Regions from separate parts of the Homo sapiens genome. Here all the other regions are reported to be linked to region 7. Evidence: microRNA targets listed by miRTarBase, many of them from high-throughput screens and not tested one by one. Region 7 holds a microRNA gene; each other region holds the end of a gene's coding sequence.

Evidence for each region. Region 7 holds the annotated microRNA hsa-miR-6888-3p (AUCUGUCUCGAUUGUUUCCAG, at 1,840-1,860, opposite strand). A microRNA usually pairs through its seed, bases 2 to 8, with sites in the 3' UTR of a target mRNA and lowers its output. Matches are read on the target gene's strand: a 7mer-m8 pairs with bases 2 to 8, a 7mer-A1 pairs with bases 2 to 7 and ends in A, and an 8mer does both.
Region 1: miRTarBase lists UBE2W as a target of hsa-miR-6888-3p. Seed matches in the 3' UTR shown: 8mer at 653-660.
Region 2: miRTarBase lists IL17RB as a target of hsa-miR-6888-3p. The part of its 3' UTR that is shown has no 7-base or 8-base seed match.
Region 3: miRTarBase lists CLPB as a target of hsa-miR-6888-3p. Seed matches in the 3' UTR shown: 7mer-m8 at 1,616-1,622.
Region 4: the mRNA of FAXC is a reported target of hsa-miR-6888-3p. The part of its 3' UTR that is shown has no 7-base or 8-base seed match.
Region 5: miRTarBase lists SYTL4 as a target of hsa-miR-6888-3p. Seed matches in the 3' UTR shown: 7mer-m8 at 1,393-1,399.
Region 6: miRTarBase lists GLIPR1L2 as a target of hsa-miR-6888-3p. Seed matches in the 3' UTR shown: 8mer at 526-533.

Annotation. Positions count from the first base shown.
Region 1 is chr8:73,791,533-73,794,600 of GRCh38, forward strand. UBE2W (ubiquitin conjugating enzyme E2 W) reads right to left here. Exons shown (of 6, transcript NM_018299.6): 6 at 1-2,583. The coding sequence ends at 2,570. Among named protein-coding and RNA genes, the nearest start is that of STAU2, 46 kb to the left of the region's middle.
Region 2 is chr3:53,865,037-53,868,106 of GRCh38, reverse strand. It overlaps IL17RB (interleukin 17 receptor B), which reads right to left. Exons shown (of 11, transcript NM_018725.4): 11 at 2,313-3,070. The coding sequence ends at 2,799. It overlaps ACTR8 (actin related protein 8), which reads left to right. Exons shown (of 13, transcript NM_022899.5): 13 at 1-1,041. Among named protein-coding and RNA genes, the nearest start is that of ACTR8, 16 kb to the left of the region's middle.
Region 3 is chr11:72,290,578-72,293,656 of GRCh38, reverse strand. It overlaps CLPB (ClpB family mitochondrial disaggregase), which reads left to right. Exons shown (of 16, transcript NM_001258392.3): 16 at 42-3,079. The coding sequence ends at 290. Among named protein-coding and RNA genes, the nearest start is that of PHOX2A, 48 kb to the right of the region's middle.
Region 4 is chr6:99,278,631-99,281,713 of GRCh38, reverse strand. FAXC (failed axon connections homolog, metaxin like GST domain containing) reads left to right here. Exons shown (of 6, transcript NM_032511.4): 6 at 261-3,083. The coding sequence ends at 550. Among named protein-coding and RNA genes, the nearest start is that of FAXC, 70 kb to the left of the region's middle.
Region 5 is chrX:100,673,572-100,676,650 of GRCh38, forward strand. It overlaps SYTL4 (synaptotagmin like 4), which reads right to left. Exons shown (of 20, transcript NM_001370165.1): 20 at 920-2,605. The coding sequence ends at 2,457. SRPX2 (sushi repeat containing protein X-linked 2) reads left to right here. Exons shown (of 11, transcript NM_014467.3): 11 at 1-2,217. Among named protein-coding and RNA genes, the nearest start is that of SRPX2, 31 kb to the left of the region's middle.
Region 6 is chr12:75,430,698-75,433,780 of GRCh38, forward strand. GLIPR1L2 (GLIPR1 like 2) reads left to right here. Exons shown (of 6, transcript NM_001270396.2): 5 at 18-44; 6 at 127-1,991. The coding sequence ends at 464. Among named protein-coding and RNA genes, the nearest start is that of GLIPR1L2, 41 kb to the left of the region's middle.
Region 7 is chr2:159,185,658-159,188,740 of GRCh38, reverse strand. It overlaps MIR6888 (microRNA 6888), which reads right to left and starts at 1,906; the gene lies at 1,840-1,906. TANC1 (tetratricopeptide repeat, ankyrin repeat and coiled-coil containing 1) reads right to left here. Exons shown (of 27, transcript NM_033394.3): 15 at 2,842-2,950; 16 at 1,717-1,839. RefSeq lists a cis regulatory region at 3,054 and an enhancer at 2,970-3,083.

The DNA of each region.
Region 1 (3,068 bases), not on the chromosome of region 7:
GTTGTCTTTCAACAATGCATTACAGAGAAATATTCTTTTTATTATTACAAGCCATTAATTGCTCTCTGTAGAGCAATGACTCAGATAAATGCCTTATGACTTTTAATAATGTAACTAACATATAAATTAAATCTAAGTGCAAGGAGTTTTCAATGATTCCTAAATTCAAGAGAGTGTTGTTAGCCTGATTATGAATTTTAAATGTCTGTGCTCCTATATTTTAGGATATTTCATCTTATTTTCTACTCTTTAAACCATAAGATGTACCGAAATTATTTCATTTTCCTCTACTTTCCTCTGTGTCATTTTAGTTTACTTTATGGTATTTATATGTAGAGAGAGAGGTATGTTAAAATATTGTCATAAAAAACTCAATTGAGGCTATATATGACCTATTACTCTATAGTATAGCATTGTTAATCTTTGACTCAGTATATTAATTCCTTTGGTGAATAAATGTCACCGGTCATTTCTTTATAAAAGCATTTTGGTAAGAGAACCAGCAATATGGAGACAGATTTCTCCCTAACCCCCAGAAGAAGATCAAGTCAAACAGTAGTGTAGAGCAGTTACGCAAAATATGAAAATACATAATTTACAGCTGCAATTTTCATATTAAAAGCAGTTTAAAACTATGAGTAATTCAAAGACTTTCTGTCTTGGTTAAACAGGCCAACTAATAAAACTGACAGAGATCATTGTGAGAATTTATCTAGTCAAGATAGAACAAAAACGGTTATAATTTTTTAAAAGTGGTAATTGTTAACTAGCAGTATATAAACAGTGTCCACAATTTGGTGGCTGGCCACGGTTTTAATTTTTTTTTTCAAGTTATTTCTATAGCAGACATATTTTTGAAGTCTACCCACCCCTGAGTTCAGCAATTATACTTTGAGTGTAAAATTATATGCCCTTAATTAACAACATGTACAAAGCTACAAAATGTCATCTATACAGATTAAAAACAATTTTAAAATATTATTTACCAATTATTGATTGAATGGTTTTACTGGGGTACGTATTTCAAACCTTTCAGCCAACTGGCTTTCAGTTTTAAGCCCAAATTGATTCATATATTCACTGCAGGATATTTCAAAAAGAGTGCAACAATAAGGCATTAGTAAAAATAACATTGTAGTAGAAACAGATTTTGCATATGTGAAAAGGTAATTTATAAAATACATTAATCACTTTTTAAAAAGAACTTAGTTGTAGTATCATTAACTCACATGGTACTGAGAACTGGACCTTTCAACAATTTTTTTTTTCTATAGAAAGTTTCATCTAGCTGTAAGCAAAGTCTTTTCAACAACAACAAAACAAAACCCTCCAGGAAAAACTATATGGCTGTGTGAGACAAATAAGCAACCATTTGATAGTGACTTTTGCCTAAATTTTAAAATAAAAATGTCCACACTCTTTTGTTAAAACATTAAGCCTCTGTCAAAAATGTATTTCTTATTTTAGGGTACAGGATTAAAGGACAAGATGATACTCACAAGTAAAGAAAATTTACAAGAAAAAACTTAACAAAAGTTTCAATAAAAGTATTGTAACATTCAAACTTGACTTATAACAAAAGAAACAAGATTGCAAACAAAAATGTTTACGGGGTTTCCAAACATAAATAAATGAAATAGTGTTTAGGCAGTAGGGCTCATGCTGATGGCTAGCAGGAAGTTAACAGAGTGTAACTTACTTGGAAAAAATCTTTAATGTACAAATAACAAGCCCAAATTATGGACTGCAGCAATTTAATCATCACTGCCATTTTTCTTACTTCCAAAATAAAGCCTTGATTAAACCATTCATACCCTATATTACTCATACCTTTACTTCAGAGATTGAGGAACTATATACAACAAATTAATTTATTTTCACCATAGGGATAACATACTGTACCTCTCTGCCAATGTTACTTGAAAATCTTCCATGTCAAAACAACTTGACAGTAGATATAAACAATTCAATAAATATGCAATGATCTTTCATTACAGTCCTTTAAAGACGCATGTTAATTCATGCTGTTAACCTTAGGATCACAGTGCATAGAATCCAAATATAAACAGTTGGGGTGACTTTTAAAGTAATGTTGGATCCCTCACTTTATTTATATTCCCACTATAACCAGTAAGTTCATTTCATAGGCCCTATCATGCATTAATCATTGAATGGCAGGAGTTAATGAAAACTTTTCCTGTTACAACGCCCATTGCCGGCAATGAACGTACCAAAACCGCCAAGGAAGTCATTGTTATTGCACAATACATGAGGACCTGGAGCTTTTCCAAAAGCTTAAAAAAATAAAAATAAAAAATGGAATTATATTTGACATTTCCTGACACCTGCATTAATACTGTATGACTAATAAAAGCATGTCAGTTGCCTGGACTGAACCAGCGATCAACATGCGCCCAGAATGCACACGAGTAAAAATGCAGTAAAAGGAAGTAGTCTTCATTGCCTATAGGTCACTTCCAGTCAAAGGTTAAAGTTCAAAGACTGAATGATCAAAGTGCTCATTTTCTCAGTAGGACTATCTTCTGCTAGGAGGATGATAACAGTGGCATCAACAAGTATCATCTTTAAGAAAAGGAGAAAAAAGATAATTAAAAAGTCAAGCATGTATAAGTAAATTCTACAAGTCTGTTTAATGTAGAAATAATTTCAATTAGCAAGAAGTACATAGTTTACATGTCTGATCTGCCTCCCCCAAACCTGTGAATACAAAGTGCAATATATGTTCAATTATACAGTGACAAATTTTTATTCTTTCAGAGAAATAGTTCACATAAACCTTAAAATGATATGTTATTAGCACATTCTATTTAAAATAATAAACTGACATGACATGTTAGTACATAGTCAGGATGTATCAATCTTAAGAGAATTATTTTATGGGCAACAAGTTCACATTGTAATGAGACAGAAGTAAACTCCTGATCAACAGTGCCATGCTATTTAACACAGAATAATACACAATTTGTCTTTAGACTGTGAAGGAAGTAACTGTTCTTTACCAATGAGATACAATCTCCAAATCAATAAACAGTTAAGATTAATTTCCC
Region 2 (3,070 bases), not on the chromosome of region 7:
ACTGGCTTTTGTTACCTGACATGCCGTAGGGTGAGCTTAGAGGAAGAAAGAAAACAATTTTTATTTGGCCAAAACAGAACAAATGCTGAAAAGGAAATCTTGTTTTTTTCCTAAAGCCAAATAGAAATGATTTGGGTATAATTTAAGAGTCCTTGTGTTGTACAGATATGGTGACTGATGTAGTTATTAATACTACCAACTTAGTCATCAAGCCTCAATTTTCCTTTACCTGAAGGATTAAGTGAAAGCTTTTGGAGTTCATGATGTTCAGTATGATCAGTTAACCTTAACCTCTGAGCATCCTGAAGCAAAATCTAAATAATGCAGCTATTACCACTGGTGGTCCAGGCTCTGGTGAAGCCCTCTGAGCCCAGGAGGAAGAGAAAGCATTGTCCAGAGGTAGGAACACAGTCTGGGAGCCCAGAGCTCTGGGAGGAGTGGGAAAATGCTGCTTCCTGCTGCTTGCTTCTAGGCACCTGCTTCCGCCATCTCACTTACCATGGCTAGAGATGGGGGTGAGACTGGGGAAGGACAAAAGCAGGGAACAGATAAGTGATGGAAATCAGAAGGGAATATAGAAAGAACTCTGGATGTGGAGAAATGCCGGTACCTGAGCATTTTGTATCAATGGGAGTACCCTCTGTAACTGCTCAGTAGGTTACAAATGAAGAGTCCACCAGTATTAGAAACAATTTAAACTTGCCAGTACCAACTGGGATGTGTGCCTTCAATTTGAAAATTGTATGTTTTATTTTTTAAATTTGTTAACAGCATTAATTTATAGAGTATTGATGTCATTTATGTTTCTGAGGTGTTTCAACACAATTTTGGATCAGCTGCCTGTTTGCAAAAACATAATATATTTCTGTTAAACAGTTCTTCACCTAACAGCATATTGCTCTTATAACTGGTAGAGCTGTTTCAAAGGAAGTTGGTTTCTGGTCCAAGTTTTGACCTAAACCATGTCCATCTTCTATTACCAGCACTTACAAGCACTGTGAAAACTGATCATGACAAATAAGTAAAATTTGCTACATTAAACATATTGCCTCAGCCATTACTAAGCGTCCACTTGTAAAGCTGGACACAGTTTTTACTTTATGCTTCATTTTGATTTTTTATCCGTAAGACATAAATTAGAAGGCATGAGGTGGCCCTTTAAGGATAATCTGCAAATATACACATTTTAATAGTCATCCATCTGAAATCGATCCACATTCCAGAGAAGATTCAGTATTGTGCTGTGTGAAATAAGCATTCCCAGAAAAAAAACATTTATGCTAATAATACAACATAACCTCTGCATTAAAGAAAAAGATGCTTTTAGGCCAGGCGCCGTGGCTCACACCTGTAATCCCTGCACTTTGAGAGGCTGAGGTGGGTGGATCATGAGGTCAGGAGATCAAGACCATCCTGGCTAACAGGGTGAAACCCCGTCTCTACTAAAAATATAAAAAGTTAGCTGGGTGTGGTGGTGGGTGCCTGTAGTCCCAGCTACTCAGGAGGCTGAGGCAGGAGAATGGCGTGAACCCGGAAGGCAGAGGTTGTAGTGAGCCGAGGTCACGCCACTGCACTCCAGCCTGGGTGACAGAGTGAAACTCTGTCTCAAAAAAAAAAAATTTAAAAAATTTAAAAAAGATGCTTTTAGAAGAGTAAAAAGTTGGAAGACAAAATGTGCATCTTTTATGTTCTGTCATTCTGTGGGGGTTTTTTCGTTTGTTTGTTTTAGACAGGGTCTGCTCTCACCCAGGATGGAGTGCAGTGGCACAATCACCGTTTACTGCACCCTTGACCTCCAGGGCTCAAGTGATCCTCCCATCTCAGCCTCCCTAGTAGCTGGGACCACAGGCTTACACCATCACACTCAGCTAATTTTTTAAATCTTTTGTAGAGATGGAGGTCTCGCTTTGTGACGTAGCCTGGTCTTGAGCGATCCTTTTGCCTTGGCCTTGCCAAAGTGCTGGGATTGGAGGCATGAGCCACTGCACCCACCCCTGTTTTTTATTTAAGTAAACCATTATAATAACTCATTTATAAAAAGGTTACTTCAAGAGGGCTTTCAACTTAAGAATTATTTTCATTTTGAACATGAAAAGTTAAATAGTAACTAAGAAACTGAGAACTCTGACAGTGACCTCTAATAGGTAACTTTAGGCAAAAGTAGACAAGTTTGTGGGTATTTTGTTGTTCATGTTAAAAGGCACCTGTACAAGAATCAAGATATGAATCTAGTTTGTAGAGGGAAGGTCTTATGCAAATACCAAATCATACAAGTGGTTACACATATAATAGATCATTTGGTCCAGTAAAAGTGGGTTCAGCTTGTTTATTCCCTACTTTTGTTATCTTAAAAACAATGATTTTTTGCATGTAATAGAAGGTTTTTCACTTAAGATGCTATTGAGTGAATCAGTGAGGGGTTCTTAGAGTTAGTATTCATTAATTAAACATAGAATATTAGCTAAACAGTTCTGGGTACACTGCAATGCATGGTCTATGGAAGACTAGATGTTTGGCTGAAGATGCTTTATTGTTGCATTATCAAAATGGTTATAGTTTTCAATTAAAACTGTAATTGATTTCTATGTATAAAACAGCTTTGAAGTTGTAAATGTAGTTTCCAATCGTTAGTTAATGCTACATTAGTTAGCAATATTTGAAAATTTTATTGGTATAAAATGTTTTAATTACTAAGGCTGTTTGTAGGCTGCATAGTAAGCTTCAGGATCATCACACGTTTTTTCCCTGTAATTGGTGGGATAGGAAGCCTTTAAGGTCTCTTGCTTCTCATGGGTGGGCTACAAGGAGCAGCAGCCATCGTGGCAGGCTTGTGATCTTTTTCCTGCTGACACCTGCTGCTTGACATGGAGAAGTTCTGCACAGAAAGCAGTGGCATCCTTCATGAGGTGGTACTTGGGGCAGACACTGAGAGCATTGTAATCGTCTTTTGTATCAATCTCTCTAAAGTAGACCACCACGTATTTGTGCAGATGAATCTGGCTTCTTAGATCACTGCAGAAAAGGTTAAAGGCAAGGGGGAAGAGGTCTTGAGAGTTCTCACTGGGACTGC
Region 3 (3,079 bases), not on the chromosome of region 7:
TCCAGGCCGAGGGAGTGACCACTTCACCTCCCCACCGACAGGTAGAACGCCGTGTGGTGAACCAGCTGGCAGCAGCCTATGAGCAGGACCTGCTGCCAGGGGGCTGTACTTTGCGCATCACGGTGGAGGACTCAGACAAGCAGCTACTCAAAAGCCCAGAACTGCCCTCACCCCAGGCTGAGAAGCGCCTCCCCAAGCTGCGTCTGGAGATCATCGACAAGGACAGCAAGACTCGCAGACTGGACATCCGGGCACCACTGCACCCTGAGAAGGTGTGCAACACCATCTAGCAGCCACCTGCCTGCTCCTATGTGCCCTCACCATCCAATAAAGGCCCCTTGGCTGTGGCATGGCAACTGACTTACCTTCCCCTCATGCCGCTCCCATCTCTACCCAGTCTCAGGCCTGCTTACCTCCTCACAGCCCATGAAGACCCCTTCTCAGCCCCAAAACCTGAAGGAGGAATTTCGCCCTACTCTGGCCCCTTTGTTGTGGGCCCATAACCTGCTAACAAGCCTTCAGGAGAGGAGCTGCCTTTCCACCCCCTTCAAGGCAAGGAGGGATGGAGGTCCCTTATTTCCTTCAGAATGATCCCCATCCCCCATAGTCGCCAGACTTTCTCATGTTCCCAGGAAGCTCAGAAGTATGGCAGCTAAGAACACAGCTGGCTGGAAGAAGACAGGGACCAGACTGAACTGCCACCCTCTGCTAGTCCTCATGCAACTCAGTCCCCAGAATGGCTCCACTGGGAGTGGAGGAAGAGCTCAGAGGCCCAGGTGCAGATAGTTCTGCAATTTAGTCTGTAGCCTCCTCGTTCCCTACCCTAAAATTCTAAGGGGAAGGGACCCATAGAGGCTTGCCTGTTTCCGCTACTATATTATGCCCAGTGTTCCTCCTCACCCCACGTCCTGGGGTCAGGCCAGACCATGTTTCGTCAGCCTTGGGGACTAGGCCAGTGTTGGGCACCTCCAGGAGGAGGCCTGACTGGTTCATTACCCTCCCCTACTCAGACTGAGCAGCAGTCCCAGATAACCAAGCAAGCTCAGCTCTGTGGGGGCCTCCTTCAAAAGACCAACATCGCAGACATTAGGAAGCTGTAGGAAGAGAGATCATGGGTTTGACCTCTGCCCACATGGCCATGGAGTCAGCCTCAGCCCTGTCTGTACTGCTCGTCCAGCTAAACGAGCCTGGAATAAACATGCAGTTTATTCAGTCTGCATGTTAGTCACAAAGCAGAGGGTCTGGACACCGTCCCCCAAGGGCATTTCACAGACCAGCCAATGTTTCAAGCCCACCTTAGCCAGGCACAGTAAGGCCTGGTGCATCCTTGGGCACCATCTACAGTAGCCACTGCTGATAAGCAGTCCACCCACCTTCCCCCACAGGCCCTTCATGGAACCCTCGCGTAGTGTTAGCTAGTCTTTCAGGAAGCAGAGAATGGGGCCAGGAATCAAAGTCCCTTGGGTAATGGAAGCATGTCCTAACAGTATGGTGGGTATGAGGCAGTCAGAATCCAGGGTGTGAGCTCCAGCAGATGCTTGGATCACTGTCTACCCCTCAGGGGCTGCTGCTCCCTACCTCACTGACTGCCTTTTTTTTTTTTTTTTTTTTTTTGAGACAGAGTCTCACTCTGTCCCCCAAGCTGGAGTGCAGTGGCGCGATCTCGGCTCACTGCAAGCCCTGCCTCCCAGGTTCACGCCATTCTCCTGCCTCAGCCTCCCGAGTAGCTGGGACTACAGGTGCCCACCACCACGCCCGGCTACCTTTTTGTATTTTTAGTAGAGACAGGGTTTCACCATGTTAGCCAGGATGGTCTCAATCTCCTGACCTTGTGATCTGCCTGCCTCGGCCTCCCAAAGTGCTGGGATTACAGGCATGAGCCACTGGACCCGGCCTGCTTTTCATTGTTTTTTACTTTTTGTTTTGAAATAATTTTAGACTTAGAGAAAGTTGCAGAAATAGTAGAAAATTCCCATGTATCTTTCATCTAGCATCTCCCAATGATTACATCCTACAAAGCCATACTGTAGTTTATCAAAACCAGGAAATTGCCGGGTGTGGTGGCTCATGCCTGTAATTCCAGCACTTTGGGAGGCTGAGGCAGGCAGATTACCTGAGGTCAGGAGTTCGAGACCAGCCTGGCCAACATGGTGAAACCCTGTCTGTACTAAAAATACAAAAATTAGCCAGGCCCGCTGGTGCCCACCTGTAATCCCAGCTACTTGGGAGGCTGAGGCAGGAGAATCACTTGAGCCCAGGAGGCGGAGGTTGCAGTGAGCTGAAATCACGCCACTGCACTCCAGCCTGGGCGACAGAGTGAGACTCCGTCTCAAAAAAAGAAAACCAGGAAGTTAACATTGATAAACTACTACTAACTAATCTACGGACATTCAAATTTTGCCAGTTTTCCCGATGATGTCCTTTGTCTGGTCCAGGGTCCCATATTGCATTTTGTTGTGGTGTTTCCTTCATCTCTGTCAGCCTGTGACAGTTTCTTGGTCTTTATCTTTCATGACCTTGACACTTTGGAAGAGTCCAGGCCAGTTATTTTATAGAATATTCCCCAGTTTTAGTTTGTTTAATGTTTTTACATGATATGATTGAGGATCTGCATTTTTGCCAAGACAACCACAGAAGTGATACTGTGCTATTCTTAGTGCCTCCTAGCGGAGGGTGGTGGTAACTTTTTGTTTTGGTTTTTTTTTTTTTTTTGAGACGGAGTCCCGCTCTGTCACCCAGGATGGAGTGCAGTGGCGCAATCTCGGCTCACTGCAACCTCTGCCTCCTGGGTTCAAAGTGATTCTCCTGCCTCAGCCTCCTGAGTAGCTGGGATTGCAGGTGCCCACCACCACACCCAGCTAATTTTTGTATTTTTAGTAGAGACAGGTTTTCGCCATGTTGGCCAGGCTGGTCTTGAACTCCTGACCTCAGGTGATCCACCCACCTCGGCCTCCCAAAGTGCTGAGATTACAGGCATGAGCCACCACACCTAGACTAGGTGGTGGTAACTTTGATCACATGGCTAAGGTGGTGTGTGCCAGGTTTCTCCACTGTAAAATTAGGAATTTTCCCTTTGAAA
Region 4 (3,083 bases), not on the chromosome of region 7:
CTGGACACAGTGCTGTCTTGCTGTGTCCTCACATGGTAAAAGGGGGAAGGCAGCTCTCTCAGGCCTCTGTTATGAGGTACTAGTACCACGAATGAGGGCTTGGGCCTCATGAACGAACCACCTCTTAAAGGCCCCACCTCCTTAGACCATCACATTGGGAGTCAGGATTTCAACATTGGAGTTTTGGGGCAACACAGACCATAGAAGTGGTAGACTGCTGCCTTTGAGAACTAATCCTTGCTTTCCTTACCACACTGCAGGTGAGCTGATCAACCTTGCCATGTACTGTGAGAGGATAAGGAGGAAATTTTGGCCAGAGTGGCACCACGATGATGACAATACCATCTATGAGTCTGAGGAGAGCAGCGAAGGCAGCAAAACCCACACCCCGCTGCTGGATTTTAGCTTTTACTCAAGGACAGAGACCTTTGAAGATGAGGGAGCAGAAAACAGTTTTTCCAGAACCCCAGACACAGATTTTACTGGACACTCACTCTTTGATTCGGATGTGGACATGGATGACTATACAGACCACGAACAGTGCAAGTGACGTCCAGCCTCACTGACCCTCTTCCTTGGGACCTGCCACTCCCTGGGTCGGTCCATTTTCCCAGGTAGCAATCCATCCGAGCTGGGAGGAGATCTTCGTGCTTGGCAGAGTTTTCACATGCTAACTGGACTATAGCAGCCTTATTTCTTTTTTGTACAAACAAAACACAGAACCATTCAGATGACTCCATTGAAAACAAACAGGCAAAAAATAATGTCAGCATGGTTCCTGAAATCCATTTTTGTTTTCATTAGAAAACTATTAATAATATTGTGTGGTAGAGCAGGTGTAAGAGCTGGTTGTCAGCTGATAGTTTTTATGATGATCCTCTTCAACCCTGAGGTCTTAATTGTGAGATGGATTCTTGAACCTCCTTCCTCCACCAGGATTTGAAGTAATGAGAGATATCATCAGAAAAATGTTTTACGGTGGCTGCTTGTACTTTATGTGTGTATATTGTATGTTGAGACATAAGTCAAATAAAATCCACAGATATTAAACGAACACCTACTATGTGCAAAGCACTGTGCTAGGTGCTAATCAGTATACATTTTATTCTAAGCCCTGCCAGTGACTAGCTGTGTGATTTTGAGCAAATCTCTTATTAACTATTGGGTGCCTCATTTCTCCCACCTGTAAAGTGGGGATGACAATACTCTCCACCTACCTACCTCACAGGGGTGTTGTGGGGATTCATGTGGTAACATTCGTACGGCGCTTTAAACCTCTTAGAAGTGGTGCGACATAAACACAGCATTTTATTCTTTATTGCACTTCATGCATGTGAAGATTTGAGGGCAAAGGAATTCCATATCCAGGCAACCACCACCACAGTCACCTGCAAAAGCTGAGCAGATGAAATACACACAAAGGTACACTTAGGACTTTGTCATGATTCCTTTCTGTAATCTTGGCTGAATCAAAATCTTTTGTTCAAAGAACATTGGAAATGTTTTTACAAATTATCGACAGCTACAAACAGTCTTCAATTCTACCATGTATTTGCAGAAAAGTGGTTCTTTCATTGCCTGAACTCACCCTGGCATGTTCTGTGTTGACTCCAGAGTGTTACGTTGCCTATGTTTGATTTATTTGAGAAGAATAAATCTCAGGTATATGGCAGGTTTCATAGAGTTGAAGGGAAAGTATTTCATTGATTTTTATAAGCAGAAGCCTGCCAACTTGTAATGTCTTTTTGAAAACAAACCTTGCAAAGATGTATTGAAAAGATGAAGTAGCAAGAGGATACTTGTATCAAAGCACTCTGTGCAGTGTTAGACTATATGCAGTTTTATTAATGCAACTTTTCTGGTGTTTTCAGCCACTGCCCAGTGAGAGGAGAGCAATGCTGAGAACAAGTCTTAATGTTTTTGCTGTCTCATCCCCGTTCTCTCTCTCTTTCCCTATAGTATTCGATGAACTGTTGGCTTACCCATATTTGTGAAGGCACCCTATTTCTAAAGATGAAGTTGTTGTTGTTGTTGTTGTTTTGACTTAGGACATTTTCCAGGGAAATATGGGGCAGAGATCCTGGGTGATGGCTGTGAGATTTGGGCTAGGAGAGCCAAGATTTACAATTGCAAACAAAACTGCTTTGCTTCTGACCAACATAAGGATTGCTCATTATGGGGTTAAAGAGGCACTTCTTAAAATACAGCAACTTCTGAGAAATCCATGCACTTTACTTGAAAAAAAAAAAACCTCTTTTTGAATATAGCATTTGCAAAACAATCTTAAAAGACTGCTGTAGATTCACAAAGAGGTAAAGGGAGGAGAGTTTTTCAGACTGCTTACCACTTAAGCAATTGTGTAGGGCATATGTAACTGGGAATACGTGCTGAGATACCCTAAGTTAGAAATTCTTATTCCATGGGAAACTTAGTTGTTAATATCTTATTAAAACCATTCTTATTTAAAGGGACTGTTTGATGCCTAATAAGAATGTGGTGGAGAAGATATGAATGGATAAGCCTGTTTGAGGCTGCAGCATCATTTGGGAGGACTGTTTGCCTCCCCTCTCTCTAGCAAGTGTGTTTTAAGGCCAACTGGTGGCATTTCTGTGTGACTAGGGAGACTCCTGGACTGAAAATATGAATATAATGAACAGGTGGACTGCAGACCTGTCTCCACAAAGCATGGGTTGTCCTTTTCCCACCACATTTTAGTAGAAAAGAAATGTATTTGAATTTTTTTCTATGAACAATCTATCTTACTGTACAGTACCAAGTGTGATGTATTTTCTCTCAAAGGATGATTAAGTTATGAGAATGTAGATTAATATATGTTTTTAATTTTATATTACTTGGAATACAAGTATGTGGAGAACCAACTTTGAAAATGAAGTTGTAAAATAAGTCATTCCATCCAGGTACCTCTTACAGGGGCATGAATGGACATTGCTATCTGGAGTCTTGGGCAATTGCCTGACAGCATATAACTGGGCATCAACATTTTGTAGGTGTTAATTTGATTTAGAGCCCTAGAATATGCCCCTGCTTTACTTTCCCAAGGCGGGTTATGCAAACAAAATAAC
Region 5 (3,079 bases), not on the chromosome of region 7:
TCTGTCTCTCTCTCTCTCACATACACACACACTCACTCACAAGCAGTACAGTCACTAAGTTGGCTAGGTAATATCCAAAGCATTCTGATTGTCCTACTTTTTGTAAATTGAACTTATTTAAGATATTTTAGAAGAGATGAGTCACGTCTTCCTTTGACCCTTCACCCATAACACACATACCATTCTCACAGGAGGCCACATGGTGCAGTAGAGTCAGACTTTGATTCAAAGCCCAACTCTGTCACGTGACAGTAGGCTTGAGTTTCCTCATCTGTAAAAAGGGAAGATTTCCTACTTCATAAAGTGGTTGGAGAAATTAAAGAAATAGTATATGAAGCCTTGCACATAAAAAGCATTTGATATATATTAATGCCCTTTTGCACAAGAGGTCAAGAATTGCTTGGGTTCTACCTAGAAATCAAGAGCCTTATTTCTGAGCTGGGTTACTTGGCACCTGTGTTATTTCTCTCTCAAAACTACATAATGGTAGGAGGAGTAAAAGAAAAAGTCCCCGCCTCCCAGAGAAATTGAAGGATCCAGAAAGAAGTGCTTATAGCAGGGAATGTCTCCCCTCACCTCCTGTATGAACATCTCTCTCCTTCCTCCAGTATAGGAGGGTCTGCAAAGCTAAAGGAAGAGTTCCTTTGTTACAAGATAGAAAAGTGGTGCCACTTTAAAGATGATTTCTCAGTGTTCTCCTTAGATACCAAATACAAAGGACGAGGGATCAAGCTCAGCGAAAGTATCAGGCATTTAAGGTATCAGGCAGCAATGCGGGGAAAGGTGAATTTTCTTCAATCAGCATAGGATGGTTAGGGAAGAGCATTTATCACTTTGGTTCTTATCCTTCAAGCCAGGGGAAAAGCAACAGTGAGGACATCAGAGACAAAAGCATTTATAGAACTAACAAACACAAACGTTTGACAAGTGAGAAAGCTTTATTAAAGCACACATACATGTCAGGGGGGTGGGAAACAAAAGAGCAAGTTACAGCCCGGGATCCCAAGTTATGCCTTCCATTACAATTGCAATCCACACCAAATCAATCTTTGAAAACATTCCTCCATTCGGTTCATACATACAGTAGAAACCACTGTGGCTGCCCTTAATCCAGTGTGCTTATAGGAAATCAGTTAGCAGCTGACTCTGTTGAAAGGGATTTCCTCTCTGCTATACACTCCTTCCACACACAACTTTGGGTAGAAACGCTTATGAGAATAGAAAGGTCAGTTTGATCAATGAGTACCAGAAGATGAAACTTAGCTCACTAGACCCTTCTTTGAAAAGCCTCAACACACTACACCCATGTAATATGTAGGTCAAATTTAGGAAACAATAGCAAAAACAGGAACTGAAAGCTCATCAAGCAGGAAGTCAGAATAACAGGGAGACTCTGTCTACATTCCCTTAGAGCCCTTAACAGTCCCCAGCCTGGAGAAACACTGGGCCAATTGAGATAACACTTGGCTCTTCTGGTTGACACAGTGGGATGTAGACCATGCTCTGTTTGATAACACACCCCAGACGCAAACACTAAGACAGATGTGGTACATGAGGATGAATATATCTCATCTTTCATTCGAGAAATGAGGAGCTCTCTCTCCAATGACTGCAGTATCAGTTTAAAATGCAGAAAATTCAGCATGGGCTGTGAGACACTTTACCCTCAGTCACTCTGGTCCTCTGAGATCAGCTAGAAGCTCTCACTGGGCATCCTCGTGATTTAGTCAAAATACATTATCTAATTAAAGTGCTTTTCAAAAGCAGCTCCATTATAAGAGTCCCCCAAAGGTCTAGTAAAGATATCTAGAACTGGAAAAAGCTTGGGAATTCTGTTAGCATTTCAAAGAAAAGCATTAGACCAAAGCAAGGTGGAAACTGCTTAAAAACTAGAAAAGTTAAATTTAAAAGCCAAGTTCCAGAAGTTTATCCAGGTAGAAAATAAGTTAAAAGCATAAATTGGAGAGGAGAAAGAGGAAGGAACTACTCACCTCTCCCCAACATTCCTGTCTTTACTAACCAACCCTGCTTCCCAGAGCCTTAAAACCCAGACTGGTCCTAATGCGAAAGGTAGCCAGGGCTTCCTAGGGAAGTAGGAACAATGATAGCAAGACAGAAGATAAAAAGTTGTTTTAAAAGCTGTTTTTAAGTTAAGTGAACCTTATAAAGACATAAGAAAAAATGGACTCTGAAAATAAACTAGATTATACACAGAAACATTTTAAAGAAATGCTTATTCTTGAGACTGCTTTAAAAAGAAGAACAAGTCTGCATCACTCTAGCCAGCATAATGAGATTTGCAGAAAATACATGTTTGTACACATACACACACACACACACACACACACATACACACATACACACATACACATTAAATTATAAATCTTTGCTCTTGATTTCTTCACTTCCTCTGACCTGCCCTCGCCAGGGCTGGACCTGCAGAAGAGGACAGGGACTCATAAACCCAGCTTCTGCTTGGCCATTGAGGAACGGAGCTGCAGAGTCCCTTCTGCCCAAGACCCTGGGTACTGTCGCATCTTCTGCCACAGGCTCACTTCTTCCCCAGTCGAGTCCATCCAGTCCACCACTTCCCCATTACTGATCCCTGAGGAGAAACACCAGAAGAGGCTAAAGAGGGGCCCCACTCTCAGCCCACCAGGGAAGATGGGTTGTACAGCAAGATTAGCCACCCCATAACAGTTTCCTACGAAGATGGGCTAATGGCCACAGCAGTCTGGGAAGTGCTCCCTCACCTGTATTCCTGAGACTCTGTCAAGAGACTCTGGGTTGATGAAATCAGACTCCAAATGGCACACAGTCACTAGAGACTTCTTATTCTGAGGCTGTTACAGAGTTCTAGTGCCTGACAACTCATGCCAGAGCTATTGCCAACTGTACTTAAACATTTTTCTTTTATTATTATTATTAATTTGAGACGGAGCCTCGCTCTGTCGCCAGGCTGGAGTGCAGTGGCACAATCTTGGCTCACTGCAACTTCTGCTTCCTGGGTTCAAGCGATTCTCCCGCCTCAGCCTCCAGAGTACCTGGGACTACAGGCCTGCGCCACCACGCCCAGCTA
Region 6 (3,083 bases), not on the chromosome of region 7:
TTTCTTTTTCTTTCTAGGTAATGCAGATCGTGACCAAGCCACATGTATGTATTGTTGTCCTTTATTTCTTGAACAATTGAACTGCTTTATATGAAATCCAGCTTTCAATTGCTTCTTTGTTTACAGATTACCGATTTTGGTATCCAAAATGGGAAATGCCCCGGCCAGTTGTGTGTGATCCACTGTGCACATTCATTTTATTATTGAGAATATTATGTTTTATCCTGTGTGTCATAACTGTTTTGATAGTACAGTCTCAGTTTCCAAATATCTTGTTGGAACAACAAATGATATTTACCCCTGAGGAATCTGAAGCAGGGAATGAAGAGGAGGAAAAAGAGGAAGAGAAGAAAGAGAAAGAGGAAATGGAAATGGAAATAATGGAAATGGAGGAGGAAAAAGAAGAGAGAGAGGAGGAGGAGGAGGAAACACAAAAAGAAAAGATGGAGGAAGAGGAAAAATAAGAGTAGAAAGAGGAGGAAAAAGATGTATCACCAATATAAACCAAAAGTGTAATACAAAAAAAGACAGAAAAAAAAAAAAAGTAAAACACTGAGTTTTAACAAGAAAGAAAATATGCAAACCACCATTGGAATGTTTTTTATTCCCTTCTCTCCTATACTTATTCAATCAATTTAAATTTGTAAAACAAAGAAACAAAAAACATGTAAGGTGGGCTCTTTGACACTAAGAACAGATAAAGACATGACAGGAAAAACACTGAAAAACATTTGACCAGTCTAATTAATCTTAAGATTTCACCATGTTATTCTAATAAAGTAGGGAATTTTCATTTTCTAAACATGTTTCCATCTCTGTGTTTTAAATAGTAAGGTGCTTAAGATCATTCCAAGTTCATAACAACCATTGAATAAAATTTGTATTTTTTTGTTTTTACTGTTACTGTCATAGTTTTTATTGGTGGTAGTGGTATTTTCATGTGATATTAAGGTATCTAATATTATTATTTGTCTTTGTGGTTTTTGGAATAGTTTAAGTGGTACCTGTACATCCTGCTAGGATGCAAACTTATTATTTATAATTAATGTTCAATATTTCATTAAAGACTTGCTGTAATTTTCTGCCACCAAGGGCTAATAAATGCCATAATTTTAATTAGTTGTGGTAGAGGAATCTGGGTGCTTCCAAATTTATATGATAAAATAAATAAATTTTTTAAAAACTATTAACTTGTTATTCAATAGGTATAGTAAAAGTTAACAGATTAATAAGATAACTGCTTACCACTAGTAATACTAATAAATGAACTAAATAAAAATACCTAGCATAGGAGATTTCTTTATCTATAAAATAAATGGATAGCACTAGATGACCACTAAGACCTCTTCCATCAATGAATATTCATGGATCAACTTTGTAAAGGAATCAATAGTAGTTGTGAAGTACACTAAGCAAACACCTGAGGGAAAAACTTGATTCCCATGAAAATATTCCTGAACTCAGCACCTTATATGGCAAAATAATAAATACCTTTTATTACTCAATTTTAAAATAGGCAAAAAGCAATGTATAATATTTTTCCAATTGCCATTCCATACTCAGCTGTCTTATTGTTGCACACTTATTAGAACTCAATGTGACTGAGATGTGAAAGGTTGATATAATTCTATTTATGACAGGGACTTAGGGAACTTATTCTAATTGAGAATCAGAGGCTTAATAAACCTGAAGGTTTAAGTGAAAGAAATGACATTGAAAGAATCACTGCATATCTGATGTTTTCAAATAAAACAATCTCTGTTTTCTGGTTTTGATAGAATATTGTGTTCTAAAGCTATATTTCTCAATGTGTGGTTCCACTGAGGGAAAGAAAAAAAAAAAAACCTAGCATAGCCAAATACCTCAAATGGTATAAATGCTATGTGTATTTACTCTGTTGTTCTTTAGTTGTATCAATATTCTGTTAAAAACCTGTTCGAAGTAGGGCAAGATGAGAATTATATTAAAAAGCCCTGAGCTATCCTCTTGGATTTGAATGTTTCTGTTTGGTTTGTTTCCTTTGCTTTGTTTTTTTTTTCAAAGAGCTCCTGTTTGTAGAAATTAGATATTTTTCTATCTATGAAGTCAGCCTCTGTTCCACCAGTCCCCTGAGAAAAAGCCTTAGGTAGAGAAAAGGGCTAGTTCTCTACAGTGACGTTATTTATTATTATTATTGTACATTTGTGTTGTATTTCATAGCTTCCAAAGTCCTTTCATGTAAGTATTTGATATTCAAAACCATTCCTGTGGAGCTGGCATTGCTTCTATTTTTAAAATAAGAAAACTGACCTTGGATTTGTGAACATTTGATGCATTTACAAGTACAATTTCTTCATTTATTAATTCCCACACATGACTAACTTGTTATGTATCTGTATGCCTAACAGAACCTGGGCCTGGCCCAGGAAACCATTTTCTCCTAGGCCTCCAGGCCTGTGATGGGAGGGGCTCTGGTGAAAACTCTTGACACAGACTGGAGACATTTTCCCCATTGTCTTGGAGATTAACATTCATCTCCTCATTACTTATGCAAGTTTCTGCAGCCAGCTTCAATTTCTCCTCAGAAGATAGGTTTTTCTTTCTATCACGTTGACAGGCTGCAAATTTTCCAAACTTTTATGCTCTGTTTCTTTCATAAAACAACCCAAGTCACCTCTTGAAAGCTTTACTGCTTAGAAATTTCTTCCTCCATGTGAGAAATGGGAGTTCTTTTTCAAAGATTATAAAAAGTCACAATTTCTTACTATAAGATTGCTATATATATATAGTGGATTATATATATATATATAGTGGATTATATATATATAGTGGATTATTTATATATATATATATATAATGGATTTTATATATATATATAATGGATTATATATATATATTCCAAATCAGCTGTCCTAGCTTGCTCCGGCATGCCTGGACAGAAGTAGACAAGCCCCAGCCCATAGTGCATGCCACTCCTTATTTGGAGATGCTTCCTTAAGTATCCCTGGGCAACTTCCTTTTCTTTCTTTGTTCTATTCCCCTTACCTAATTAAGAAAGTTTTAAACTAATAACCAATCAGGTAAAGTGTAAAATGTGAGGTCCT
Region 7 (3,083 bases):
GGTGGCCATAGGGCAGCATCAGCATTCCCACTAAGTACACTGGAAGCTCACACAAGCACAATTGTTTTAAAATGTGTCCTTCCTGACTATGATGTAGGATATGACTGGATCTCCCGGCCAAGGGAAGTTGGGCCAAAGGCCACACCTAGCTCCTGTTCTCCTCTCCTTTCTGTTGTCAGCTGAGAAAAGAACTGCAACCTAAATCCTCCTGAGGCCACAGCTTGCGGCTGGCCACCAGTCCTATGAGATGGTACAACAAAACCACTGGCTGGATGGGACTCCAGTGGGCCAGCGGGGCCCAGGCTGGCCCCATCCTGGCCTGGCCACAGGAGACAACATGGTTAGAGACTGCTGGCATGCCACTGCAACTAAAATCCATCTACCAAGTAATCATCCCAGAGCAAGTCACTTTAATTTACCAAAGTGGCAAACTGCAATTATTGTTCAAAATGACATTCATTCCTGTATGACAACATTTAATACACTCTAAAAAAAGTTCCTTAATTGCATGCATAATTTAAAATTACTGTAATTTGTTCAAGATCCTGTGAAAACCGTTTTCCCCCCTTGAAAGATAAAAGAAACAGAAGGATAATGAAAAGACTTAAGATTCTATAACCACATTATAGAAATAATTTCGGAGATGGTGTAGATGTAGGTGACACTGGAGTTTTACAAAACAAAGTAAAAATGATTAACTCTTAAAATCGCACATACGTTAAAGAGCAAAGTTTATAATCTCAGGAGGGCCATGCTCATTACACTATTATGCAGTACCTTTAAATTTACTGTCTTAAAAACTTGTACTCAACAGATGTTTCCCATTTACTTATTTCCATATTAAAATAAATTCTATGCCCAGAAATTCATTAACATATGAAAACATATTGCCATTTTTATTCTCATCTTTCTTATGATTATAGAATTTTATTAGTTATGGAGAAGCCGAGAGATACACTCTTAGCTGAAATGAAAGATGAAACAATGTGAGTGATTCGGGGGGAAGACCTGGCTCCCTAAACTGACCCAGGGCTTCCACAGGCAGCCGGGTACATCAGGGCCTGAAGCTGAAAGGCCTGGACACTGTCTCTGTGGCCTTAACAGGCTGCTTGGCCTCTGTGTGCTTCAGATTCCCAGGCTACATGAAATCAGGAAGAAAAATCTACCTTAAAAAGCTGAGTGGAACATCATGACATGAAAGCCACTGACCAAGAAGTGAAGAAGCTCTTGGCTCCACAGAAGGCCATGCTGATACCCTTTCCATAGGCAGAAATATGGATACATGAAACCTCGATGTTTGTTTTTCTGTGTACTTATCTCTATGCATCACCCATCCATGCTTAATTTCCCATGAACTCTGAAGAGATGGTCCAGATTAGTAACGCAGGACACTTAAAAAATCCGTTTTCCCTAGAAATCTCTCTGATCTTTGATTTCTTTTGTAAATTGCTTCCTTATCACATCTGCTGTGAAACAGTCACCACATGTGCTCAGAGCAGCCCTGACCACCCACATCTTCCTGCCAAAGAAAAGCTAAACTTCTGGAAGAACGAGTAATACAGCACCCAAGCCCGTGTGATCAGGGAAGCACATCTTTAGAAGCTCCTCTGCGTCCTCTCACCACCACCCAGGGCAGAGGGAAACAGGGCTGTTGGAGGAACGGCCAGCAGCCGGCCAGGGCTGGGTCTCCGGCTCTCTGTGCAGAAGGTTGCTCACCTTCACGTTGGGAGTATAGAGATTCCTGAGAGAGGCCAGGGCGGCGGACAGCCCCTCGGTGCTGTAGCCGATCCACAGGGCTTGGAGATGGCTTGAAGAAATTCCCGTCTTCTTACTGAGGCCCTGGAAACAATCGAGACAGATCTTGGAAACAATCAGAGACAGATCTGCCTGAGCATCTCCTTCCCACCTGCAGGGTCACTCTGAAAGTGGGTCTGCCGCAGAGGGTGCAGATACCTGCAGAAGGCACGGGGTCACACACAAAGAATGCCTGGACATGCGAGCTTTCACTACCTGAAACCAAGGGTCAAGGAACCAGCCTGCCTTCACTAGGTTAACTTTGTGCCTTGGGAGAGAGATGGCAGATGAGAGTTTCTCTTTGAGTCAGAGTCTTGCTGTGTCGCCCAGGCTGGAAGTGCAGTGGTGCAATCTCAACTCACTTCAACCTCCACCTCCCAGGCTCAAGTGATTCTCATCCCTCAGCCTCTCAAGTACCTGGGATTACAGATACATGCCACCACTCCCAGCTAATTTTTGTATTTTTAGTAGAGACAAGGTTTTACCATGTTGGAAGTAAATTAGAGGAAGAATAAATGACAGAATTAGAATATCACCATCTGAGCCCTGCAAGGTGGAGCGTGCCTATAGTCCCAGTTACTTGGGAGGCTGAGGCGGGAGGATGGCTTGAGTCCAGTAAGCTATGATCCCACCACTGCTCTCCAGCCTGGGCAAACACAGTCAGAAAGTCCAGGTGGTACAAAATCACACAGGTCAAGAAACTCAGGTTCTCGAACAAATCAATAATAAGGAAACAAAAAGTAATGAACAAAGTGGAACCTTTAGATAAAAAGAAACTTATCAGAGATTTAAAGGTGGAAAGAAGTAAAACTTAAGCACAGCACTCTGATATACACTTGAGCAATCAACTATAGCAAAATGCAAGGAAATGCCCAGGCTGAGTCAGAACAGCGGTTACTTTTGGAGAGGGGAGGCAGGAGGAGGTTGCATTTGGGCTGAGGTGCATGGAGCGTTTCTTGGATGGCTGACAGAGCTGTCTAAAATCTCCAAAGCAAAACCTCAAAATGACAACAAAGAAACCCTTCCCCAAGTTGGTGTGCATCTCACCTTGAAAATGTGCGCCTTCAGGATGTGGTGGCCAAGCTCCATGGTCTGCTGGCGGTTCAACTTGCCCTCCTGACGCGAGAACATGAATGCCAAGAGCGCGTGCCCGTTCCTAGGGGAAGGAATACAAAGGCTCACAGCAGAAGAGCCCATTCCACCACACCGCAGACCCACCCTCAATTCACCACCCATTGCCTTAGTCACTGATTTATGCCCGTGACAAAGATGTAAACTCCGGGAGGCTA